7 linked regions of the Homo sapiens genome follow. The protein of the gene in region 2 interacts with the protein of the main gene of each other region in a biochemical or structural test. Each region holds a gene or a part of one and is shown on either strand. Other genes may lie near its edges. The genes, in order: CLDN8, PDZK1, GOT1L1, SLC22A9, FZD4, LDB3 and ABCA7.

The links.
Region 1: the proteins of PDZK1 (region 2) and CLDN8 interact in a test that uses a peptide from one of them, tested with the Homo sapiens proteins (one large-scale study listed by IntAct).
Region 3: the proteins of PDZK1 (region 2) and GOT1L1 interact in a test that uses a peptide from one of them, tested with the Homo sapiens proteins (one large-scale study listed by IntAct).
Region 4: the proteins of PDZK1 (region 2) and SLC22A9 interact in a test that uses a peptide from one of them, tested with the Homo sapiens proteins (one large-scale study listed by IntAct).
Region 5: the proteins of PDZK1 (region 2) and FZD4 interact in a test that uses a peptide from one of them, tested with the Homo sapiens proteins (one large-scale study listed by IntAct).
Region 6: the proteins of PDZK1 (region 2) and LDB3 interact in a test that uses a peptide from one of them, tested with the Homo sapiens proteins (one large-scale study listed by IntAct).
Region 7: the proteins of PDZK1 (region 2) and ABCA7 interact in a test that uses a peptide from one of them, tested with the Homo sapiens proteins (one large-scale study listed by IntAct).

What each region holds. Positions count from the first base shown.
Region 1 is NC_000021.9:30,213,506-30,217,309, reverse strand, and holds CLDN8 (claudin-8), read left to right. Parts: upstream 1-1,212; 5' UTR 1,213-1,384; coding exon 1,385-2,062; 3' UTR 2,063-3,304; downstream 3,305-3,804.
Region 2 is NC_000001.11:145,704,569-145,708,579, reverse strand, and holds the start of PDZK1 (Na(+)/H(+) exchange regulatory cofactor NHE-RF3), read left to right. Parts: upstream 1-1,211; 5' UTR 1,212-1,263; intron 1,264-1,756; exon of another isoform or gene 1,757-1,916; intron 1,917-4,011. UniProt on the Homo sapiens protein: A scaffold protein that connects plasma membrane proteins and regulatory components, regulating their surface expression in epithelial cells apical domains.
Region 3 is NC_000008.11:37,937,325-37,941,378, reverse strand, and holds the start of GOT1L1 (putative aspartate aminotransferase, cytoplasmic 2), read left to right. Parts: upstream 1-1,254; 5' UTR 1,255-1,349; coding exon 1,350-1,464; intron 1,465-2,497; coding exon 2,498-2,679; intron 2,680-3,629; coding exon 3,630-3,741; intron 3,742-3,992; coding exon 3,993-4,054.
Region 4 is NC_000011.10:63,376,285-63,379,784, forward strand, and holds part of SLC22A9 (organic anion transporter 7), read left to right. Parts: intron 1-3,500. UniProt on the Homo sapiens protein: Sodium-independent organic anion transporter, exhibits high specificity for sulfated conjugates of xenobiotics and steroid hormones such as estrone 3-sulfate (E1S) and dehydroepiandrosterone sulfate (DHEAS).
Region 5 is NC_000011.10:86,945,396-86,948,895, reverse strand, and holds the end of FZD4 (frizzled-4 precursor), read left to right. Parts: 3' UTR 1-3,217; downstream 3,218-3,500. UniProt on the Homo sapiens protein: Receptor for Wnt proteins.
Region 6 is NC_000010.11:86,731,011-86,734,510, forward strand, and holds part of LDB3 (LIM domain-binding protein 3), read left to right. Parts: intron 1-1,876; coding exon 1,877-1,966; 3' UTR 1,967-3,500. UniProt on the Homo sapiens protein: May function as an adapter in striated muscle to couple protein kinase C-mediated signaling via its LIM domains to the cytoskeleton.
Region 7 is NC_000019.10:1,050,107-1,053,606, forward strand, and holds part of ABCA7 (phospholipid-transporting ATPase ABCA7), read left to right. Parts: intron 1-814; coding exon 815-946; intron 947-1,048; coding exon 1,049-1,188; intron 1,189-1,342; coding exon 1,343-1,480; intron 1,481-1,835; coding exon 1,836-2,020; intron 2,021-2,107; coding exon 2,108-2,180; intron 2,181-3,222; coding exon 3,223-3,425; intron 3,426-3,500. UniProt on the Homo sapiens protein: Catalyzes the translocation of specific phospholipids from the cytoplasmic to the extracellular/lumenal leaflet of membrane coupled to the hydrolysis of ATP. Transports preferentially phosphatidylserine over phosphatidylcholine.

The sequences.
Region 1 (3,804 bases), on a different chromosome or scaffold from region 2:
CTCCCATATTTGGATTTAAGGTAGTCCAATGAAACAGAGAGAAAGTAAAACTGTAAAGAGAAAATCATTTTTTATGATGTTAAGAAGAAAAGAAAATGAAGTGGCAGCTTAAACTTTGGAAAGATCAGACAGAGAGCTTAAGGTGATCTCCAGAAGAAAATTGCTAGTCGAATTTTCTCAGATAAACATTTATGCTTAGTATAGCACTACTGTTAGAGCATCATTATTTTGAGAAGAAAGTTCAAATTGTCTTGCGTTTAGGGGTTTCTATGTCCTACTGCAGACATAATATTAAAAGGTAGGAAAACATATTTGGTTAATACCTAATATAATACAGTTTGGTAAATATAGTTCCCTTGTCTTGTAAATATCTTATTTTGAAATATCAGCCATTTGTATAGGCCCAAGGGTCTTGTGTCATCTTCAGAATTCTAGTTCCTTCAGCCCAGGAATTCAAAGCAGCAAGAATAACACCACAAAATAAGCTCATAAGCTTATTTTAATGCTATAGTGCTGGATACATAAGATAATCATCTGGTGATTTTTATTTTGGCAAAAAATGTTTTTATAAGTGAAGATTATCAGAAAAGTGTCAATGAGTATTTTTTCTGGCTTAAAGAACTCCAATATGTTTTCAGTGCCAAGGAGAAGGACAGCCTTGTGTATTTAATTACTTTAGCTTATTTTGTCCTCTGGCATGATCTGTTCCCTGATTTCACCACAGTAGAGCTTGCTTTGAAGTTGTAGAAAAATTAAATCAATCACTTGGATCACATGTGTCCCAAAGAATGTGGCTTCCCAGGTAAAAGCAATCTTTCAATCCCCTACTCTCGTTTCACTTTGGCATTTCAACAGCGTTGCAGAATTCTTCGGCAGATAATTTATTTTATCCCTTGGTCCCAGCAGCTCTTATTAAGAGTTTCAGAATTGCCTGTACAAGGTGCACCTTTCACATTACAAGGGATCGGCTCATTTCTTGATGCTTATGCAACCACTTATAACTATGCCTACAGGTAAACATACTGCTGTCTTCTTGGAAGACCGAGAAGTATAAAGAATGTTTATGTGCAGGTCTAGCTGTTCCAAGTACCCAAGTGTTGGTTTAGACACACCTGGATTACCATCCACCTTTTATTGGCTGAGAAAGTTGCCACACCTGATTTGTAAGTTTACCTGTTGCAGCCAATAGCAGGGCCATCTCAGCCAGCCAGCACTGGATACTATCTGGCCAGAAGTAGCAAAGCAGCTCTTATTTGAAAAACCACTGGGTTCCGAGTTCATTACTACAGGAAAAACTGTTCTCTTCTGTGGCACAGAGAACCCTGCTTCAAAGCAGAAGTAGCAGTTCCGGAGTCCAGCTGGCTAAAACTCATCCCAGAGGATAATGGCAACCCATGCCTTAGAAATCGCTGGGCTGTTTCTTGGTGGTGTTGGAATGGTGGGCACAGTGGCTGTCACTGTCATGCCTCAGTGGAGAGTGTCGGCCTTCATTGAAAACAACATCGTGGTTTTTGAAAACTTCTGGGAAGGACTGTGGATGAATTGCGTGAGGCAGGCTAACATCAGGATGCAGTGCAAAATCTATGATTCCCTGCTGGCTCTTTCTCCGGACCTACAGGCAGCCAGAGGACTGATGTGTGCTGCTTCCGTGATGTCCTTCTTGGCTTTCATGATGGCCATCCTTGGCATGAAATGCACCAGGTGCACGGGGGACAATGAGAAGGTGAAGGCTCACATTCTGCTGACGGCTGGAATCATCTTCATCATCACGGGCATGGTGGTGCTCATCCCTGTGAGCTGGGTTGCCAATGCCATCATCAGAGATTTCTATAACTCAATAGTGAATGTTGCCCAAAAACGTGAGCTTGGAGAAGCTCTCTACTTAGGATGGACCACGGCACTGGTGCTGATTGTTGGAGGAGCTCTGTTCTGCTGCGTTTTTTGTTGCAACGAAAAGAGCAGTAGCTACAGATACTCGATACCTTCCCATCGCACAACCCAAAAAAGTTATCACACCGGAAAGAAGTCACCGAGCGTCTACTCCAGAAGTCAGTATGTGTAGTTGTGTATGTTTTTTTAACTTTACTATAAAGCCATGCAAATGACAAAAATCTATATTACTTTCTCAAAATGGACCCCAAAGAAACTTTGATTTACTGTTCTTAACTGCCTAATCTTAATTACAGGAACTGTGCATCAGCTATTTATGATTCTATAAGCTATTTCAGCAGAATGAGATATTAAACCCAATGCTTTGATTGTTCTAGAAAGTATAGTAATTTGTTTTCTAAGGTGGTTCAAGCATCTACTCTTTTTATCATTTACTTCAAAATGACATTGCTAAAGACTGCATTATTTTACTACTGTAATTTCTCCACGACATAGCATTATGTACATAGATGAGTGTAACATTTATATCTCACATAGAGACATGCTTATATGGTTTTATTTAAAATGAAATGCCAGTCCATTACACTGAATAAATAGAACTCAACTATTGCTTTTCAGGGAAATCATGGATAGGGTTGAAGAAGGTTACTATTAATTGTTTAAAAACAGCTTAGGGATTAATGTCCTCCATTTATAATGAAGATTAAAATGAAGGCTTTAATCAGCATTGTAAAGGAAATTGAATGGCTTTCTGATATGCTGTTTTTTAGCCTAGGAGTTAGAAATCCTAACTTCTTTATCCTCTTCTCCCAGAGGCTTTTTTTTTCTTGTGTATTAAATTAACATTTTTAAAAAGCAGATATTTTGTCAAGGGGCTTTGCATTCAAACTGCTTTTCCAGGGCTATACTCAGAAGAAAGATAAAAGTGTGATCTAAGAAAAAGTGATGGTTTTAGGAAAGTGAAAATATTTTTGTTTTTGTATTTGAAGAAGAATGATGCATTTTGACAAGAAATCATATATGTATGGATATATTTTAATAAGTATTTGAGTACAGACTTTGAGGTTTCATCAATATAAATAAAAGAGCAGAAAAATATGTCTTGGTTTTCATTTGCTTACCAAAAAAACAACAACAAAAAAAGTTGTCCTTTGAGAACTTCACCTGCTCCTATGTGGGTACCTGAGTCAAAATTGTCATTTTTGTTCTGTGAAAAATAAATTTCCTTCTTGTACCATTTCTGTTTAGTTTTACTAAAATCTGTAAATACTGTATTTTTCTGTTTATTCCAAATTTGATGAAACTGACAATCCAATTTGAAAGTTTGTGTCGACGTCTGTCTAGCTTAAATGAATGTGTTCTATTTGCTTTATACATTTATATTAATAAATTGTACATTTTTCTAATTATTTGACATTCTTTCACAAGTCTCCTTTTGTTTCTGTTTTATTAACTTGTAGAAGAATGTTGAAAAGCCTGATAATTTTTTATTCTCCAAATTGAGAAAGAATGTCAAGATTTGCCTTGTAAAGACAAACAGTGCATTAATTTTTGAAAATATAAAGTACTCTATGTTATTTATGTTATTTAACAACAATATACCTTATAATCATTGGATCCCTATACCAATATTCAATGCAGATAATATATTTATAATTTAAGATAGTACTATAAATTCAAGCAAATCTATATGTTATAAATATTATGTATATAACAGCCAGGTTTGAAAAATTTTCTGTAGCTAAATATATATTTCTACTTCTGAGAAATAATAAATAATATTGTCTAATGTTCTGGGGGCATGTATTACATGCTAGGACCTCTACTGCTTATATGAATTGTTATTAAATCTTTTATGAGACTGATAATGTTATTAGTTCAATTCAAAGATGAGGCTATCTCAGAACAATTCAT
Region 2 (4,011 bases):
CTGATCCTAAATCCAGATTTTCCCATTCTACCTTCTGCTTTGAAAGATATAGAGGAGGCCAGGAGGGCTTAGCCCCGAGGTGGAGGAAGATAAGCTGGTATGAGGAAGCTGCTCAATGTCATTTTAAACCGTTTATCCATGGGCTCAGGTCATGTCTTTGTTGGGGGCCAAGCCAAGGCCCAGCAAAGACAAATGGCTCTTCCAGTGTGGGTGGAAGAGGGGTGAGGTCACCCAGTCCTCGGCCTGTGGTTTGCTTTGCCTCAGTGCCGGGAGCAATCTCTTGCCCTGATTTGCATTGTGGGCTGAGGATTCAGGTCAGTGAGAAGGCCAGTGATAGAATTGTCTGTGTGGGTGCTGCTGATAGGGATCAGCTGCTGATCATGGCTAGGGCTAGCGGCTGAGCACACGGGCACCAGCCTACTGCTCGGGCAGCAAGGCAGCAGGATGGAGGGGTTTGTAAAAATGCCTTCCACCTACCCTGCTGGGCTTGCCCGAGAGGCTCTGAGTGTGTGAAGGGGAAGACAATTATCGCTAGGCTGGAGAATAGAAAGAGCACCATCAGGTGAGAAAGAGAAGAAAAAAAGAGAGGGGAGAGAGTGGATAAGAAGAAGGAAGCCTGGGACACAAGAACAAGGGCTTTGCTTGCTCTAGGGCTTTGCTTGCTAAACTCCTAGGGAGCACACAAGTGAGAATCCAGGGCAGAGGGAAGCAGGATGGGTGCCCTGAGTGCTTGGCCCCATTTCCTGGGGCTTACTGGCCTCGTGGGTGGGAGTTTTATAGGCTACTGCTCCTTGGGGAGGCCTCAGTGATTGAGGATACTCCTGTATGAGCCTCGGCCCTGACCCCAGGATGGGGGACTGGAGGATCCTAACAGGATTGGGGGTTGGTTGGGTGTAACCAAGGTATCTGCCAAAGGGAGAGTACCAAGGAAAGCGGAGGCACCTCCTCCCTGGCTGTCCTTCACCCCCTCTCCCCTCCTTGTTCTCTGGGAGTGGCTGGCGAGCAGCGGCCTCCCCGCAGGGCCAGGCAGGTGGGCCAGAGCTTTTGGTTTGCTGAGGTTTGTCAGATTTTCCAGCTCAGGGCCCAGCCAGCTGGCAGGAAGCAGGACAGAGGTCACTTGAATTCAGACCACATGTCCCTGTTAAATACATTAGCTTTTAAATCAATCTTTGTTCAAAGTCCAGTGAGTTGCAAGCTTAATGCTCACCTGCAGAGACAGAATTCCTGAGTGAACGAACAGAGCAGCTCCTCTTCCATCTCCAGGTAAGAACTGCTCGTGTCCTCCTTGAGGGTGCTGGCCACCGGGGCCTGAACTACCTTCTTTCTTTTCCTTTTCCCTTTTTCTTTTTCCAAGCCAGTAGCTGGCTGTCTAGGGCAGAGAAGAGTCCCATGGGGAGGCAGCCAGGCCCCTTTGGCGGTGGTTGGGGGTGAGAGATGATCCACGCTCTGAGATTCTTTCTGCTGGAGATGCCCCTCACCTTTGTAGGCTAGGGTCTGCTTCACAAAGAAATTGGTAAACCGACCTCAGAAAAAGCCTTCCCGGGGTTGTGTGGGGGTTTGATGTGCAGCCAAAGGGAGTGAGACAACTGACTTCACAGGTAACCAGGCGGATATGCCCGGGACCTTCCTACTGATACAGGGGCCTTGGGTAGCAGAGAAGACTCTTCTGGAAGCAGCCTTTAAAGGATGCAGCCTAACTTAGCTTGCCCACTAGATAATAAAAGCAGGCATCTTTCCTCTCTGTATCACACTGCAGCACTAAGACATGAGAAAAACCAGTGGATTTCCAGGCTGGCTGAATTTTAAAACATACATTCCCCAGGCTCTCACCTTTGGCATTTCTAAGTCTCCAGGCCTTGTGTGAATTGAAAGATCTTTATTTGAAAACTCTCCCAGAATCATTCTGATCAGTGCAGGTAGGTTTGGGAACCACTAGTAGTTTATTTCTTAAGCAGAAGACTCATGAGACTTAAGTATGACACTTACCTAAGGGTTCACTCGCTATGAAGACTCCTGGTCTGGGTTGGGTCCAGCTATGAAGATTTGGGCGTTGGCTCTGAGAAACACATTCTTCTTTATTTACTAAAATCTCTGCAATGTGTCACCAGGGCAGCTTTCAGTCTTGTATCTAGAAGGCAAGAGGGGGTAGCAGGGACTGCCTCAGGCCATGATTGTCCAGTCATCTGAAGTCTGCAGCAAATTACTCAGGGTCTTTGAATTTCTGTGTTATGATAGTAACTTGTGCTTATCTTTGACTTTTGTATGTTCTCTGCACCATAGGGTGTGAAGTTGCTGGTAATGATGTCTTATATTCATAGACCACTGGCTAGGCAGCTACTTCTCCCCCAGGGGAAAGAACATAGGACTGGAATACAAATCATCAGAGTTTTGATTCAGTTGCTAGTGACAGGCCATTAGACAAACTACTTAGCCAACTGGAGCCTCAATTTCATTATTGATCAAGTGAAGGTCTGTCATCTTTTCCCCAAGAGTGTACTGAAAATAAAATTATAAGTACAAATGTGTGGTCCTGCATGGTGGCTCATGCCTGTAATCCCAGCACTTTGGGATGCCCAAGCGGGAGGATCACTTGAGGCCAGGAGTTCGAGACCAGCCTGGGCAATGAAGTGAGACCCCCGTCTCTACAAAAAATAATAATAAATTAATCCTGCATGGTGGCATGTGTCTGTGGTGTCAGCTACTTGGGAGGCTGAAATGGAAGGGTTGCTTGAGCCCAGGGGGTCGAGGCTACAGTGAGCCGTGATTGCATCACTGCACTCCAGCCTGGGTGACAGACTGAGATCCTGTCTAAAAAACAAAAAACCATGAATATGTTAAAAACACGATGTAAGATGCCTAGATTTCAAATGTGTATATCGAAAGTCTCTGTAGAATAGTAAGAAGAAACAAATTGCAGTCACTTGGGAAACCTTGTCCTAGTCTTTTAATCTCATTGAGCCTCTGTTTGCTCACTTACAAATAAGAAGTTGAGACCAGATCATCATTAATGTCTTTTTCAGTTGGCCAAGTATAAGGTAGATCCTGGAGCCTTGAAGGGTAGCTCCTTGTCATTGGGGTATGAATTAAAATGTCACCTCCCAGGAAGGACTTTCTAAATCAGCCTCCCACCTCCATGCCACCAGTATCTCTATCATTCACAGCGTGTACCATCAGAAATCATCTCATTTGGGCTGGGTGCAGTGGCTCACATCTGTAATCCCAGCACTTTGGGAGGCTGAGGCAGGTGGATCACCTGAGGTCAGGAGTTCAAGACCAGCTTGGCCAACATGGTGAAACCCCATCTCTACTAAAAATACAAAAATTAGCCGGGCGTGGTACTGCCTGTCTGTAGTATTAGCTACTTGGGAGGCTGAGGCAGGAGAATTGCTTGAACCTGGGAGGTGGAGGTTGCAGTGAGCCAAGATTGTGCCATTGCACCCTAGCCTGGGTGACAAAGTGAGACTCCATCTCGAGAAAAAAAAAATCATCTCTTTTACTTGTCACCTTTGCCAGATGTTAAGCTTCAAGACTGCAGGGATCTTGTCATTTGTGTTACTTGCTGTATTACCAGCCCCTTGAGCACTACCTGGCATAGAACATATTTGCATAAATGGAATTAGTGTGGCAGGGAAGGAGCTAGAAGAATAGATGCAGATGGCGATGGCTTTGATGAGGTGTTCCTCAGGAAAGGAGGTTGAAGGACTCCAATCCTCTCTCAGGGCATCTGAAGTCCAGGGTCTAATCATATGGGAATGGGTTTCTCTGGTCACTTCTTAGTGAAATGATTCTTGCATTCGTTGCATAGGGATGCAATGAGAGTGGCAAGCTGGAGCTAGACGTGTTTTCCTCAAGATCTCAGCAACTTCTTTCTTTGGTCCTTCATGAGGGACTGCCCAGATTTCCTTAATCTCTTTGCCTGATGGGTATCATGGCTAAGTGATTAAGAAAATGAGCACTGGGATTGGAAACCTGCACTCTAGATCAGGCTCTCTAAGCTTCTATTTCCTTGTC
Region 3 (4,054 bases), on a different chromosome or scaffold from region 2:
TCCCAGCACTTTGGGAGGCCCAGGTGGGCAGATCACCTGAGGTCTGGAGTTTGAGACCAGCCTGATCAACATGGAGAAATCCCCCTCTCTACTAAAAATACAAAATTAGTTGGGTGTGGTGGCGCATGCCTGTAATCCCAGCTACTCGGGAGGCTGAGGCAGGAGAATCTCTTGAACCTGGGAAGCAGAGGTTGCAGTGAGCCGAGATCACACCACTGCACTCCAATGTGGGCAGCAAGAGCGAGACTCTGTCTCAAAAAAAAAAAAAAAAAAAAAGAGAGAGTCATTAAACATCAAAAGGAAAAGAAAGCAAGCAATATGCAGACTGACTCTATAGAGGCTGGCTCTTTTCTCCCCTTGGCCTCTGCTGTCTATACTTACTAGTTGGCTGTCATTGAAACTTAACAAATGGCCAGGTGTGGTGGCTCATGCCTGTAATCCCAGCAGTTTGGGAGGCCAAGGCAGGCAGATCACCTGAGGCAAGGAGTTCGAGACTATCGACAAAGTGAGACTCCATCTCAAAAAAAAAAAAAACCAAAAAAAGAAAGAAAAAGAAACTTAACAAACATATGTAGAAGTCTTGGCTCTAGATAACTGAGAGAAATAGGACTGGCTTAGTGAGTTGCCAATTATATTCTAATAATAGGATTCTTTATTAAAACAACTGTGGAAGAAAACAGTGTTTGCTTTTTATTCCTTTTGAAATCTGGGGCACTTTGCAAAATGGAAATCAATGCCTCGACTTGCATTGGTGTGTGATCTGGGGTTTTTGCTTCTGCAGGAGAAGCCCTATCTGGCTTATTGGCTGCCTGCCTTGCCCTATGTCTTTCTTTCTTTTTTTTTTTTTTAATTTGTATAAATGTGTGAAGTACAAGTGTAATTTTGTTAGATGCATACATCGCATAGTGGTGAAGTCAGGGCTTTTAGGGTATCCATAACCCCAACAATGTACATTGTATCTGTTAAGTAATCTCCCATTATCCTTGCCCTGTCATCTAAGGAGTGGGCTTGTTACTTTGGACTGAGCCACCTGGGGCTAGAGAAGAGAAGGCATTGAGTGAGGGAAACGGGCTTGGGAATTCCGGAGATTGTTATCCTGCCCTGCCCGCTGTCTGAGGGGATTCTCCTCAAGTACCCTGGAATGTTCCTGTGGCCCCTGTGGATCGCCACCACAAAGATCATGAGGTTCTGTTGCCCTGGCAACCCGTTGTCCAGCGCCTCTGCACTGGGGCTGCCAAGGTTCCAGGAAGAGGCAGGACTGCCCGGCCCAGCCTTGGAGGAAGACTTCTGGGCAGAAGCGGAACACAGGAGCAGAGACACATAGTCTTGGCTCCAGTTTCGTTTCAGTTATGCCCACCCTTTCAGTGTTCATGGATGTGCCCCTCGCCCACAAGCTAGAGGGCAGCTTGTTAAAGACCTACAAACAAGATGATTACCCGAACAAGATATTCTTAGCCTATAGAGGTAGATGCCTAGCAGTTCTGAAGTATAAGACTTAAGTGATGGTAACTGCCTCTAGGAGGACAGTGTTCCCTGCTGCAGGGGGAGGGGTGCAGCCCAAGCTTCTGTGGGTGGAGAGATCTTTTCTTGTTAACAGAATTACCCAGTGGGGAAAAGTGCAGATAAGGTCCCAGGTCATTCCATGCTCTCTGCCCTTCTCTGGGGGCTTCTAGGGATTTGGTGAGAGCTATGTCCTCTTCCACAACTCTATGCTTGGGGGCCTGCATGGCCATCCCACACTTCTTCAGATTCTTACCTCCTCTCTCTCTCTTTCTCTTTCTCTTCCTGTTCTTGAACCAAGAATGGTTCTCCAGATTGAGCTTTCTGCTATGCAACTGGGGCTCACCACTGTGAAAGTCAGGGTTACCTTTATTTAGCTTCATCTACCTATAACTCTCATTTTGCATATATATATATATATATATATATATATATATATATATATATTTTTTTTTTTTTTTTCTTGAGACAGGGCCTCACTCTGTTGCCCAGGCTGAAGTGCAGTGGCAAGATCTCAGCTCACTGCCACCTTTGCCTCCTGGGCTCAAACCATCCTCTTGCCTCAGCCTCCTGAGTAGCTGGGACTACAGGCGCTGGTCACCATGTCTGGCTGTTTTGTATTTTTTTGTAGAGACAGGGTTTCATCATGTTGCCCAGGCTGATCTTGAACTCCTGAACTCAAGTGATCCACCCACCTTAGCCTCCCGAAGTGCTGGGATTACAGGCCTGAGCCACCAATCCTGGGCTTGTATAATTTTTAACCTTTAAAATGGCATAGGTTTCAGTTGTCTTTTTTAAAAAGACAAAAATAATACACATTCACTAACAGCATATTCTTTTCATCAAGGAGAAAAGAAAAGGGAAAGTTGTATTTTCACAGGCACCTTCCCACAGCCCCATGGAGTCCAGGAGAGATTTGTTTGCAGGCTGTCTGCAGAGCTCAGCCCTGGGGGCCCAAACCAGGCATCTGGAGCTCCCTCTGTGGTTTTCCTCACAGTCTGCATGACAAATGAAGGCCATCCCTGGGTTTCTCTCGTGGTGCAGAAGACTCGACTACAGATTTCACAGGATCCCTCCCTGAATTATGAGTACTTGCCCACCATGGGCCTGAAATCATTCATCCAGGCCTCTCTAGCACTCCTCTTTGGAAAGCACAGCCAAGCCATTGTGGAGAACAGGGTGAGAAGGTGGGCCCTCCCCTGGCTCATTTAGACACAGAGAGTGGCGATCTGGGTCTGCACAACCTTAAACCCGAAGGGGACCTCGGAGGGCCCCCTGGTATTGATAAAAGAGATACCTGAGGCTCAGAGAGTCCACAAGTCCTTAGCCATCGAGTCAGGATCGGAATCTCAGTCCAGTGGTATTCCCACCTGCTCACACTGCTGATTTGAAAGCTCTTTCAAGACAGGAATGATCTGAATTGGAGGTGGTGTTAGTATTCCCATTACTGTTTTATTTTTTAACCTATTATATATATTTTTTGAGACAGAGTCTCACTCTGTCACCCAGGCTAGAGTGCAGTGGTGCCATCTCAGCTCACTGCAACCTCCACCTCCCAGGTTCAAGCAATTCTGGTGCTGCATCCTCCTGAGTAGCTGGAATCACAGGCATGTGCCATCACGCCCAGCTAATTTTTGTATTTTTTGTAGAGACAGGGTTTCACCATGTTGGCCAGGCTGGTCTCAAACTCCTGGCCTCAGGGGATTCCCTGCCTCGTCCTCCCAAAGTGCTGGGATTACAGGCATGAGCTACTGCGTCTCGCCTCCATTACTGTTTTAGAGTGTTATTTCTGTCTATTTCTTTTTATTTTTTAATGTTTATTTACTTATTATTTTTTTGAGACGGAGTCTCACTCTGTCACCCAGACTGGAGTGCAGTGGCCTGATCTCCGCTCACTGCAACTTCCGCCTTCCGGGTTCAAGTGATTCTCCTGCCTCAGCCTCTTGAGTAGCGGGGATTACACATGCCCAACACCACATCCGGCTAATTTTTGTATTTTTAGTAGATACGGGGTTTCAACATGTTGGCCATGACCTCGAGTGATCCACCCACCCCAGCCTCCCAAAGTGCTGGAATTACAGGTGTGAGCCACCACACCTGGCCTATTTGTGTCTATGTCTTGCTGGCAGGTAGGGGGTGTACACACTGTTGGTGACAGTGGTGCCTTCCAGCTTGGCGTCCAGTTTCTCAGAGCTTGGCATAAGGATGCTCGTATAGTTTACATCATCTCTTCTCAAAAAGGTTAGTCTTACCCAAGATGAGGGGAACAGCAATCCCCGTCCCTTGTTCCTAATCCTCACCCCATTTGCCATCTTCACTGTTATCCCTCATTCTCTGTCATGAGCAAAATGGCAGACAAGCCAAGCTATTTATGTCCTTTTCCTGTTAATGTCCCACCTTCAGCCAGTGACTCTCAGCCCCACACTCCAGTACCTCTGTCTCCGTCTCTCTGTTTCCCATGTACCAGCTAGTGGGGGGCTGTGTTCCCACAGAACTGCATGGACTCGTCTTCCAGGACATGGGCTTTACAGTTTATGAATACTCTGTCTGGGAC
Region 4 (3,500 bases), on a different chromosome or scaffold from region 2:
CAAATCCCTATTTGTCTGGAGTTTCATTATACTTACTTACTATAAGTTCCTAAAGCATGACTAAGTGGAAATGCCTGTGAGAAGTCTTTCTCATTTTAATCCACCCCAGATCTTAAAGATAAATGTTGTCATGGATCTTTAAGTTAAATATTATCCATGTTATACACATATATAAAGTATTAATCTTAAAATGTGGTATGCACAAATGATACTAGATCATGAATAACAGAATAAGTCAAGGTAACTACCTGAATGAAGCTTTTGCTATGACAGAGAATATCAATGGACAGATTTAAATCCAAATATTGGAAATGATATGGGAAAGGAAAGAATGCTACTTGGAACAATAAAAATACATTTTCTCCCATTTTATTGAAAAAGGAGAGGATTAAGAGCAAGCCTCTTAATATCCTTACATATTAATATTAACCTTAAATGTAAAACATCACACTTAAAAGACACAGAGTGACAAGTTGGATTAAAAAAAAAAATACACCCAATTGTATACTGACTTCCAGAGACACTCACATGCAGTGACACCTATAGGCTCAAAGTGAAAGGATAAAGAAAAATCTAACAAGCAAATGGAAAACAAAAAAAGAGCAAGGGATGCAATTCTAATTTCAGATAAAACAGATGTTAAACCAACAGTGATCAAAAAAGGCAAAAGGAGAATTACATAATGATCCAGGGTTCAATTCAATAAGATTTAACTATCTTAAATATATATGCACCCAACACTGGAGCACGAAGATTCATACAACGAGTTCTTAGAAATCTACAAAGAGACTTAGATAAATCATACAATGATAGTTGGAGAATTCAACACCCCACTGGCAGTGTTAGACAGATTATAGACACAGAAAACTAACAAAGATGTTCAGGAACTAAACTCAACACTTGACCAAATGGACCTAACAGATATCTAAGGAACACTCCACCCAACAACAGCAGAATATACGTTATTCTCCTCTGCACATGACACATGCTCTCAAATTGACCACACATCAGCCATAAAACAATCCTCAGCAAATTCAAAAAGAAAGAAAGAAAGAAAGTAAACCAACCACACTCCTGGACCACAACACAATAAAAGAGAGATCAATATGAAGAAGATCTCCCAAAATCATAAAATTACATGGAAATTAAACAACCTTCTCTTGAATGACTTCCGGATAAATAAAGAAATTAAGGCAGAAATCAAGAAAACCTTTCAAACTAGTGAAAACAAAGATATAACATACCAGAATCTCTGGGACACAGCTAAACACATGTTAAGAAGGAAACTTATAGCACTAAATCCCCACATCACAAAGTTTGAGAGATCTCAAATTAACAACCTAACCTCAAACCTATTGGAACTAGAAAAAGAAGAGCAAACAAAACCCAAAGCTAGCAGAAAAGAAGAAGTAACCAATTCAAAGCTGAACTGAGTGAAATTGAGATGTAAAAAAGATACATATCAACAAAACCAAAGATTGGTAATTTGAAAGAACACATTAGATGGATAGACTTTCTTAAACTAATAAAGAAAAAAAGAGAGCGGATTCAAATAAATGCAATTAGAAATGACAAAGGTGACATTACCACCAACAACACAGAAATACAAAAAACACTCAGAGACTATTACAAACGCCTCTATGCGCAGAAACTAGAAAACCTGGAAGAAATAGATAATTCTTGTAAACATTCAAACTCCCAATATTGAATCAGAAATAAATTGAAACCCTGTATAAACCAATAACAAGTTTCCAAACTGAATCAGTAATAAAAAGCCAGTCAACTAGAAAAATCCCTGGGCCACATGGATTCACAGCTAAATTCTACCAGACATGTAAAGAAGAGCTTGTACCAATCCTACTGAAATTATTCCAGAAAATTGAGGCAGGGAGACTCCTAACTCATTCTACAAGACTAGATTCATTCTAATACCAAAACCTGGCAGAGAAAAAAATTTTAAAAAAAGAAAAACCAGACTAAAAACAAAAAACACATTATCAACCCAATAGACAGAGAAAAGGCTTTTAATAAAATTCAACATCGTTCATATTACAAACCCTCAACAAACTAGGCATCGAAGGAGCATACCTCAAAATAATGAGAGCTATCTATTGACAAACCCAAGCCAAGATCATACTGAATACACAAAACCTGGAAGCAGTCCCCTTGAGAACCAGGCAAGACAAGGATGTCCACACTCACCAATTCTATTAAGCATAGTACTCAAAGTCCTAGCCAGAGTAATTAGACAAAAGAAAGAAAAGGCCACAAAATAGGAAGAGAGGAAGTCAAAATATCTCTCTTCACATACAATATGATCTTATACATACAAATCCCTGTAGTTGTAGCCCAAAAGCTCCTTGATCTGGTAAACAATTTTAGCAAAGTTTCAGGATACAAAATCAATGTACAAAAATCAGTAGCATTTCTATACGCTGACATCGTTAAAGCTGAGAGCCAAATCAAGAATGTAATCTCATTCGCAATAAACACAAAATAATAAAATACCTAAGAATATAGCTAGCTAGGGAGGCAAGAGTTCTACAATGAGAACTACAAAGCAATGATGAAAGAAAGCAGAGATGACCACAAACAAATGCAAAAACATTCCATGCTCATGGATATGAAGAATCAATATTGTTTAAATGGCCATACACCCAAAGCAATTTACAGACTGAATCCTGTTCCTATCAAACTACCAAAGACATTTTTTATAGAATTAGAGAAAACTATTCTAAAATTCATATGGAACAAAAAAAAAGAGTTTGAATAACCAAAGCAATCCAAAGCAAAATGAACAAAGCTGTAGGCATCACACTATCTGACTTTGAACCATACTACGAGAACACAGTAACCAAAACAGCATGGTACTGGTACAAAGACAGAAAGGTAGACCAATAGAATAGGCTAGAGCACTGAGAAATAATGCCATACCTCTACAACCATCTGTTCATCAATGAAGTCGACAAAAACAAGCAATGGGGAAAGGATTCCCTATTCAGTCAATGGTGTGATAACTGACTATCCATATGCAGAAGATTGAAACTGAACCCCTTCCTTTCACCATATACAAAACTCAAGTCAAGATAAAGACTTAAGTTTAAGACCTAAAACTATAAAAATCCTAGAAGAAAACATAGAAGATACCATTCTGGACAAAGGCCCTGACAAAGGTCTCATGACAAAGACTCCAAAAGCAATTGCCACAAAAACAAAAGTTGACAAATGGGACCAAATAAACTAAAGAGCTTTTCCACAAAAGTTTTCAACAGAGTAAATAAAGAAGAGTGTAAACAGAAAACCTATAGAATGGGAGAAAATATTTGCAAACTGTTCATCCAACAAAGGCCTAATATTCACAATCTATAAGGCACATGAACAAATTAAAAAAGAACAGACAGCCCATAAAAAATGGCCAAAGCACATGAACAAACAGTTGTTTTTGTTTTGTTTTGTTTTGTTTTTGAGATGGAGTCTCACTCTGTCACCCAGGCTGGAGT
Region 5 (3,500 bases), on a different chromosome or scaffold from region 2:
CTCTGGCCCAGGCAGGGGAAGGAAGACCAGGCGGTAGGGGACTGGTCTTGCTGTTAGAGTATAGAGGTTTGTAATGCAGTTTTCTTCATAATGTGTCAGTGATTGTGTGACCAAGGCAGCATCTAGCAGAAAGCCAGGCATGGAGTAGGTGATCGATACTTGTCAATGACTAAATAATAACAATAAAAGAGCACTTGGGTGAATCTGGGCACCTGATTTCTGAGTTTTGAGTTCTGGAGCTAGTGTTTTGACAATGCTTTGGGTTTTGACATGCCTTTTCCACAAATCTCTTGCCTTTTCAGGGCAAAGTGTATTTGATCAGAAGTGGCCATTTGGATTAGTAGCCTTAGCAATGCTACAGGGTTATAGGCCTCTCCTTTCACATTCCAGACAATGGAGAGTGTTTATGGTTTCAGGAAAAGAACTTTGTGGCTGAGGGGTCAGTTACCAGTGACCTTCAATCAACTCCATCACTTCTTAAATCGGTATTTGTTAAAAAAATCAGTTATTTTATTTATTGAGTGCCGACTGTAGTAAAGCCCTGAAATAGATAATCTCTGTTCTTCTAACTGATCTAGGATGGGGACGCACCCAGGTCTGCTGAACTTTACTGTTCCTCTGGGAAAGGAGCAGGGACCTCTGGAATTCCCATCTGTTTCACTGTCTCCATTCCATAAATCTCTTCCTGTGTGAGCCACCACACCCAGCCTGGGTCTCTCTACTTTTAACACATCTCTCATCCCTTTCCCAGGATTCCTTCCAAGTCAGTTACAGGTGGTTTTAACAGAAAGCATCAGCTCTGCTTCGTGACAGTCTCTGGAGAAATCCCTTAGGAAGACTATGAGAGTAGGCCACAAGGACATGGGCCCACACATCTGCTTTGGCTTTGCCGGCAATTCAGGGCTTGGGGTATTCCATGTGACTTGTATAGGTATATTTGAGGACAGCATCTTGCTAGAGAAAAGGTGAGGGTTGTTTTTCTTTCTCTGAAACCTACAGTAAATGGGTATGATTGTAGCTTCCTCAGAAATCCCTTGGCCTCCAGAGATTAAACATGGTGCAATGGCACCTCTGTCCAACCTCCTTTCTGGTAGATTCCTTTCTCCTGCTTCATATAGGCCAAACCTCAGGGCAAGGGAACATGGGGGTAGAGTGGTGCTGGCCAGAACCATCTGCTTGAGCTACTTGGTTGATTCATATCCTCTTTCCTTTATGGAGACCCATTTCCTGATCTCTGAGACTGTTGCTGAACTGGCAACTTACTTGGGCCTGAAACTGGAGAAGGGGTGACATTTTTTTAATTTCAGAGATGCTTTCTGATTTTCCTCTCCCAGGTCACTGTCTCACCTGCACTCTCCAAACTCAGGTTCCGGGAAGCTTGTGTGTCTAGATACTGAATTGAGATTCTGTTCAGCACCTTTTAGCTCTATACTCTCTGGCTCCCCTCATCCTCATGGTCACTGAATTAAATGCTTATTGTATTGAGAACCAAGATGGGACCTGAGGACACAAAGATGAGCTCAACAGTCTCAGCCCTAGAGGAATAGACTCAGGGATTTCACCAGGTCGGTGCAGTATTTGATTTCTGGTGAGGTGACCACAGCTGCAGTTAGGGAAGGGAGCCATTGAGCACAGACTTTGGAAGGAACCTTTTTTTTGTTGTTTGTTTGTTTGTTTGTTTGTTTGTTTGTTTGAGACAGGGTCTTGCTCTGTCACCCAGGCTGGGGCGCAATGGCACGATCTTGGCTCACTGCAACCTCTGCCTCCTGGGTTCAAGTGATTCTCCTGCCACAGCCTCCTGAGGAGCTGGGACTACAGGTGCGTGCTACCACGCCCAGCTACTTCTGTATTTTTAGTAGAGACGGGGTTTCACTGTGTTGGCCAGGCTGGTCTCGAACTCCTGACCTCATGATCTGCCCGCCTCAGCCTCCCAAAGTGCTGGGATTACAAGTGTGAGCCACCACACCTGGCCTGGAAGGAACCTCTTAAAATCAGTTTACGTCTTGTATTTTGTTCTGTGATGGAGGACACTGGAGAGAGTTGCTATTCCAGTCAATCATGTCGAGTCACTGGACTCTGAAAATCCTATTGGTTCCTTTATTTTATTTGAGTTTAGAGTTCCCTTCTGGGTTTGTATTATGTCTGGCAAATGACCTGGGTTATCACTTTTCCTCCAGGGTTAGATCATAGATCTTGGAAACTCCTTAGAGAGCATTTTGCTCCTACCAAGGATCAGATACTGGAGCCCCACATAATAGATTTCATTTCACTCTAGCCTACATAGAGCTTTCTGTTGCTGTCTCTTGCCATGCACTTGTGCGGTGATTACACACTTGACAGTACCAGGAGACAAATGACTTACAGATCCCCCGACATGCCTCTTCCCCTTGGCAAGCTCAGTTGCCCTGATAGTAGCATGTTTCTGTTTCTGATGTACCTTTTTTCTCTTCTTCTTTGCATCAGCCAATTCCCAGAATTTCCCCAGGCAATTTGTAGAGGACCTTTTTGGGGTCCTATATGAGCCATGTCCTCAAAGCTTTTAAACCTCCTTGCTCTCCTACAATATTCAGTACATGACCACTGTCATCCTAGAAGGCTTCTGAAAAGAGGGGCAAGAGCCACTCTGCGCCACAAAGGTTGGGTCCATCTTCTCTCCGAGGTTGTGAAAGTTTTCAAATTGTACTAATAGGCTGGGGCCCTGACTTGGCTGTGGGCTTTGGGAGGGGTAAGCTGCTTTCTAGATCTCTCCCAGTGAGGCATGGAGGTGTTTCTGAATTTTGTCTACCTCACAGGGATGTTGTGAGGCTTGAAAAGGTCAAAAAATGATGGCCCCTTGAGCTCTTTGTAAGAAAGGTAGATGAAATATCGGATGTAATCTGAAAAAAAGATAAAATGTGACTTCCCCTGCTCTGTGCAGCAGTCGGGCTGGATGCTCTGTGGCCTTTCTTGGGTCCTCATGCCACCCCACAGCTCCAGGAACCTTGAAGCCAATCTGGGGGACTTTCAGATGTTTGACAAAGAGGTACCAGGCAAACTTCCTGCTACACATGCCCTGAATGAATTGCTAAATTTCAAAGGAAATGGACCCTGCTTTTAAGGATGTACAAAAGTATGTCTGCATCGATGTCTGTACTGTAAATTTCTAATTTATCACTGTACAAAGAAAACCCCTTGCTATTTAATTTTGTATTAAAGGAAAATAAAGTTTTGTTTGTTAGGTTGTGTGTGACTTGGCATATTTCTGAAAGTATATGACAGCCACTAGGAAGCATATACACCCAGCAGTGAGAAATAGAGGATTCAGTTTGTAGGGCAGATTGGGAACTGCTTTCTGAGGGCCTCTTTCTTTTTTGCTGGGGCTCTTTTTCCCCTGTGGGATTTCTCCTGCGTCAGCAAACCCCCACAGTCTAAGGTCAACAGAATTGATTGCTAATATGGTCATCAGTAACACTCAAGTAGGTCACATGATGCTTTGGATATAACTATAGTTCTCAAGTTGT
Region 6 (3,500 bases), on a different chromosome or scaffold from region 2:
TGAGTATGGTGGTGGGCGCCTGTAATCCCAGCTACTAGGGAGGCTGAGGCAGGAGAATTGCTTGAACCCGGGAGGCAGAGGTTGCAGTGAGCTGAGATCGCGCCACTGCACTCCAGCCTGGGTGACAGAGTGAGACTCCATCTCAAAAAAAAAAAAAAGAATTTCATCTCTTTTGTTTTTTTGTATATTTCTCTGCATACTTTTCCATATCTACCTTTTTTTTTTTTTTTTTGAGACGGAATCTCGCTCTGTCGCCCAGGCTTGGGTACAGTGGCATGATCTCAGCTCACTGAAACCTCCGTCTTCCGGGTTCAAGTGATTCTCCTGCCTCAGCCTCCTGAGTAGCTGGGATTACCAGTGCGCACCACCACACCCGGCTAATTTTTGTATTTTTAGTAGAGACAAGGTTTCACCATGTTGGTCAGGCTGATCTCAAACTCCTGATCTCGTGGTCCTCCTGCCTCGGCCTTCCAAAATGCTGGGATTGCAGGCGTGAGCCACCATGCCTGGCCCATCTCTCTTTTTAAATGGTGGCATTCCATTGGAAAAATACACCATGAAAATTTACTGAATCATCTTCCTATTGAGAGAAATTTTACTAGTTTTCAGTTTCTAGTTGAGCACAGGTTGTTTTGTTGTTCTGCAGAGTTGCTTCTGCAGGATAAAATTCTCTAGCGTGGCATTACTGGGTTACAGGGTAGTCACATCTCAATGGTTCTTGTTCAACATGGCCAGATTCCCTATGGAACACTGAGCTCACTCACATGTCTCTAGCAGTGCACGAGTAGGCCTTGTTCCTTTTTGGCATTGCTGATTTTTGATTGAATACTTTTTTTTTTTTTAAGCTTTTTGGCTACAGGCATATTAGGTTAAAGGTGACAGGCCATTGAGGTTTTTTTGTTTTATTTGTCTTGCTAGATTAATATGTGTCTAGTGGTATCTCAGGGCAGTTTTTCTTGTAATTTTTTTAACTAATTTTCTTTTCTTTCTTTCTTTTTCTTTTTTTTTTTTTTTGGTAGAGACAGAGGCTCACTATGTTGCCCAGGCTGGTCTCAAACACCTGGCCTCAAACGATCCTCCTGCCTTGGCCTTCCAAAGTGTAGGGATTACAGGCATCAGCTACTGCGCCTGGAGTCAGGGGAGTTTTAATTTGCTTTTTCTTTAATTATTAGTGAGTACAATCTTCTCTGATGTGTTTGTTAGTTTACTAATGATTTTCTTTAGACGTGAATCCTCTCTGTGGTATATTGACTTGTGAACTTGTATTGACTCTATTCATGCTATTTTAGATAGCATGAATTGGTCAGCTTCATAGTGTATATTTTCTCTATTCCATTAAATTTAATTAATTTCATTTGATTTTATTCTGTTCTTCAGGAATCTTAGTTTTTATATAGTCCAACTCATGTACTCTGCTTCCGTCATTAAGAATTCATAGTGGGAGAAATAGGCTGTTGCCTTTTCTCTAGAATGCATGGGGCAAGGCTGTTTGTTTGTTTGTTTGTTTGCTTTAGACAGTCTTGCTATGTTGCCCAGGCTGGAGTGCAGTGGCACAATCACAGCTCACTGCAACCTCTGTCTCCCGGGTTCAAGAGATTCTTCTGCCTCAACCTCCCGAGTAGCTGGGATTACAGGCACATGGCAACATGCCCCTGGCTAATTTTTGTATTTTTAGTAGAGATGGAGTTTCGCCATGTTGGCCAGGCTGGTCTTGGACTCCTGACCTCAAGTGATCTGCCTGCCTTGGCCTTCCAAAGTGCTGGGATTACAGGACTGAGCCACCACGCCTGGCCAGGGCGTTTTCTTAAAAAAGTGATTGAAATCTGCTCATGCCCTGTGCCACGTGGGTCTCACGCAGGTCTGTTCTCTGCTCCAGGTCTGCCATGTGAATCTGGAGGGGCAGCCGTTCTACTCCAAGAAGGACAGACCCCTGTGCAAGAAGCACGCACACACCATCAACTTGTAGGCGGCCAAGGCCGCCTGTGCTGACGAGGCCCGGAGCTGCTCCTGCTGCTGGCAACAAAGGATTCGGGAGGCTGATGTTTCTTCTGAGGGGAATGGGGAGAGAGAGGAAGCGACTGAGCCCTTTGGAAGTATAATTTTAGGTTTTTTCTTCTGTACACAGATCGTGCATTTGCATAGTTCAGACTAGGAGCCAAATGAAGACTCAAAACCAAGCTAGTTATTAATCCAAGACTGGAATTGTACTTCAGACATTTAGAGCAGAATTCCAAGAACTCAAAAGTGAAAAGCAACAAGCAGCTTTCCCAAAGCGATACACTTGCTTTGGTCACCAGAGGAGGACAGAGCTTAGAGCAGCTGTGGAGAATCTGAAGCATTCTGCGGAGTTCTTAAGCGCTCCCCTGGCAAACAAATTGAAGTGCCAAACAGCACTCGCTGCAGGGTATTTTTAGAGTCATAGCTGAGAGCTTGTTAGCTAAGACCCATTGGGCTTTCCTCACCAAAAAAGGAAGTGTTATTCCATTACTAGCGTCATGGAGCTACCTCTGCGCATCAGACTTCAGACCTTGAACAAACTTAAAACCTTCTTGGGAGCCCGGACGTCCAAAGAGATGTCTTCTGGGAGCCACTGGGCAATTGCCAGGGCTCCAGGAAGGGCTCTGGCTCAGGTTGCAGACAGCTGAGAAAAGATGGCCCTGTCAGCCACCCTCTCTCAGTCTGAAACATCCAACATCCCCAGAAGGCTTAGCTCCTTTTTGAATTGTGATGGGAAAGTAGAGTTGGGTTTTTCCAGTTTTGCTCTGTGGTGTGTGAGAGATTTTTTTAAAGGCTTTGGGTTGTCTTTGGCCTTTGTTTAGCTTTAAGGGTTCGTTAGCATGAGTGTCCAGTCGTGTGCATGAATTTCACCCCAACTTGTGACTGCTCACTTATGACGTCTCCCCCAGTACCCTCCATCTCAAATAGGCTTGGTGGCCTGTGGAAAAGAAGAGAGACAGAGAGACAGTGTCTGAAACAGGATGGCAGAATAGGCTCACATGCCCAAACTCTGGGTGGGGAAGAGGAAACTTACTTTCTGCCACCCTCAGTAAGAACACACGAGGAGGCAGGACCTCCCACCTTCAGGTCTGCATCATCCTTTTCAAATGTTCCTTTAAATGCAGCACACTGAGTTTGTACAATTGTGTTAACTGCTGGAAGGGACAGATGCACTGATATATATGCATTTGCTGTTTTGGCCAATATTTTGAAAATGTATGAGCTGAGTTGATCTAGCTATTATTTAAGTATTTATTGAAGTAGAGGGGCCTTCAAACTACTTTATACTAGTGATAGTTTGAGTTAGGTAAGCATCTTAAAGCTGTTTGGTGATAAAGAAGGCAGCTTAGATTCTGTGGTTGGAAACAGTGTAGTCGCTTCCCTTTTTAGGAAGCCCTGTTAATATGCTCATTGAAAACATGGCATTGAAGCAGGCACTTGCGTGGATGTTTCTCACTTGAGCACGATATTTAGGCTCTCTTCCAACTCACTCTATTCTGTCC
Region 7 (3,500 bases), on a different chromosome or scaffold from region 2:
AGACCCTGTCTCAAAATAAATAGGGCGGGAGTGGTGGCTCACGCCTGTAATCCCAGCACTTGGGCAAGCCGAGGTGGGAGGATTGCCTGAGGTCAGAGTTTGAGACACAGCCTGGCCAATATGGCAAAACCATCTCTACTAAAAATACAAAAATTAGCCGGGTGTGATGGTGGCGTGCACCTGTAATCCCAGCTACTCAGGAGGCTGAGGCAGGAGAACTGCTTGAACCCTGGAGGCGGAGGTTGCAGTGAGCCGAGACTGTGCCGTTGCACTCCAGCCTGGGCAACAGAGTGAGACTCTGTCACAAAAAAATAAAAATAAACAAATAAATAAAAATAAGGCTATCACAGGGTTTTGGATGTAGCATTTAATAGGTGCTCTGTGGCCAGGCGTGGTGGCTCAGGCCTGCAATCCCAGCACTTTGGGGGGCCGAGGCGGGTGGATCACGAGGTCAGGAGATTGAGATCATCCTGGCTAACATGGTGAAACAGTGAAACCCCGTCTCTACTAAAAATGCAAAAAAATTAGCCGGACATGGTGGCGGGCGCCTGTAGTCCCAGCTACTCGGGAGGCTGAGGCAGGAGAATGGCGTGAACCCGGGAGGTGGAGCTTGCAGTGAGCCGAGATCGTGCCGCTGCACTCCAGCCTGGGCAACAGAGTGAAACTCCGTCTCAAAAATAATAATAATAATAATAATAATAATAATAATAATAAATAATTAAAAATTTTTTAAAAACAGAAATTAAAAATAGAAGCTCTGTAACTGCCAGTGCACTCTGTGAAGGGGGCTACTCTGAGACCCCTCTATCCACAGGTCCATCTTGAGTGGCCTCTTCCCACCCAGTGGTGGCTCTGCCTTCATCCTGGGCCACGACGTCCGCTCCAGCATGGCCGCCATCCGGCCCCACCTGGGCGTCTGTCCTCAGTACAACGTGCTGTTTGACATGTGCGTCTCGGCAGGCCCAGAGTGCAGCGGTGGGAAGGGACTGGACGCCCTCTGGGACTCTGCCTGCCATGTGGGTCACTCTGCTCTGTGCACTGGCCGCAGGCTGACCGTGGACGAGCACGTCTGGTTCTATGGGCGGCTGAAGGGTCTGAGTGCCGCTGTAGTGGGCCCCGAGCAGGACCGTCTGCTGCAGGATGTGGGGCTGGTCTCCAAGCAGAGTGTGCAGACTCGCCACCTCTCTGGTGAGCCCATCCCCAAGGGAGGTCACCTCACAGGGAGGGGCCTGGGGATTCATCCTGAAGGCAGGGGGAAGCCGGGTACTGAGGTCCACGTGGGTAGGCAACCTTGCCCAAGGCTGGGTGTGACACACTGAGGTCCCTTCCCCATCTCTACCAGGTGGGATGCAACGGAAGCTGTCCGTGGCCATTGCCTTTGTGGGCGGCTCCCAAGTTGTTATCCTGGACGAGCCTACGGCTGGCGTGGATCCTGCTTCCCGCCGCGGTATTTGGGAGCTGCTGCTCAAATACCGAGAAGGTAAGAGCTGGGGATTCTGCTCGAGGGGCCAGAAAAGGCTTCTGACAAGGAAGTGCTGGGGATGGGGTTTTGAGGAATGAGTAGGAGTTTGCTACATGTGGACCCCACTTGTTGCTATGGCATTTAGGGGCTACTGCTCAAATACCGAGACAGTAAGAGTTGGGGATAGACAGAGGTTCCCCTGGATTCTGCCTGAAGGGCCAGAAAAGGTTTCCAACAAGGAGGTTCTGGGGATGAGGTTTTGAGGGATGAATAGGAGTTTGCTTCATGGGGCAGACAACTCCTGGCAGAGGCCCCAGCTCGGGCAAAGACGCGGCGGCCTGATGGTAGTTGTGGGTTGGTCCCCCGTGCCTAGGTCGCACGCTGATCCTCTCCACCCACCACCTGGATGAGGCAGAGCTGCTGGGAGACCGTGTGGCCGTGGTGGCAGGTGGCCGCTTGTGCTGCTGTGGCTCCCCACTCTTCCTGCGCCGTCACCTGGGCTCCGGCTACTACCTGACGCTGGTGAAGGCCCGCCTGCCCCTGACCACCAATGAGAAGGTGGGGACCGGCCTTCTCCTGACCCCTGACCCCCGGGACTCTGTTCAGCCCTGAAGGCCAAGCCACTTGGTGCCTCTCTGCCCGCAGGCTGACACTGACATGGAGGGCAGTGTGGACACCAGGCAGGAAAAGAAGAATGGCAGCCAGGGCAGCAGAGTCGGTGAGGGCCGGGGTGGGAGACCCAAGGCGGGTGGGCAGTGGGGTGGCTGTGCCTTAACTTGAGGAGGAGGAGGGGGAGGGGGAAGAGGAGGAGGAGGGGGAGGAAGCGGCAGAGGAGGTTGAGGCGGAGGAGGAGGGGGAGGAGGAGGGGGAGGAGTAAGAGGTGGAAGGGGAGGCGAAGGGGAGGAGTAGGAGGGAGAGGAGGAGGGGGAGGGAGAGGAGGAGGGGGAGGAGAAGGGGGGAGGAGGAGGGGAAGGGAGAGGAGGAGGGGGAGAAGAAGGGGAGGAGTAGGAGGGGAGCAGAAGGGGAGGAATAGGAGGGGGAGGAGGAGGGGGAGGGAAAGGGGGAGGAGAAGGGGGAGAAGTAGGAGGAAGAGGAGGGGGAGGAGAAGGGGGAGGAGTAGGAGGGAGAGGAGGAGGAGGGAGAGGAGGGGGAGGAGAAGGAGAGGAGGAGGAGAGCACTTGAGAACCTGAGATGATGCCCCCATCCCTGGGCTGAGCCGGAACCATGAGACTAACTTGAACACTGACCCCACCTTTAACCCAACCAGGGCTGAGCCCAGAGACAAACCTACCCCTGACCTCCAACACTAGGTCCAGCACTGCCCTCAAGATCTCTTTTTGTTTGTTTCTGAGTCTTGCTCTGTCGCCCAGGCTGTAGTGCAGTGGTGTGATCTCAGCTCACTGCAACCTCTGCCTCCTGGGTTCAAGCATTTCTCCTCCCTCAGCCTCTCGAGTAACTGGGATTACAGGTGGGTTCCACCATGCCTGGCTAATTTTTGCATTTTTGGTAGAAATGGGGTTTCACCATGTTGGTCAGGCTGGTCTCAAACTCCTGACCTCAGGTGATCTGCCTGCTTCAACCCTCAAAGTGCTGGGATTACAGGCGTGAGCCACTGCGCCCGGCCGCACCTGGCCTACGTTCTTAACCCTGATCTCTGTCTGCCGGGACAGTCCCCTCACAGGTCACCAATGCCTCTTCCCCAGGGAGACTGGGGTGGGGCGTGAGCCGGGGCTCCCTGAAGCACCCCTTTGTCCACACAGGCACTCCTCAGCTGCTGGCCCTGGTACAGCACTGGGTGCCCGGGGCACGGCTGGTGGAGGAGCTGCCACACGAGCTGGTGCTGGTGCTGCCCTACACGGGTGCCCATGACGGCAGCTTCGCCACACTCTTCCGAGAGCTAGACACGCGGCTGGCGGAGCTGAGGCTCACTGGCTACGGGATCTCCGACACCAGCCTCGAGGAGGTGTGAGGCCTGGGTGGTGGTGAGGTGGGGCCAGGAGGAGGGCTTCCTGGAGGAGGTGGTGTTTTGAAGGATGAA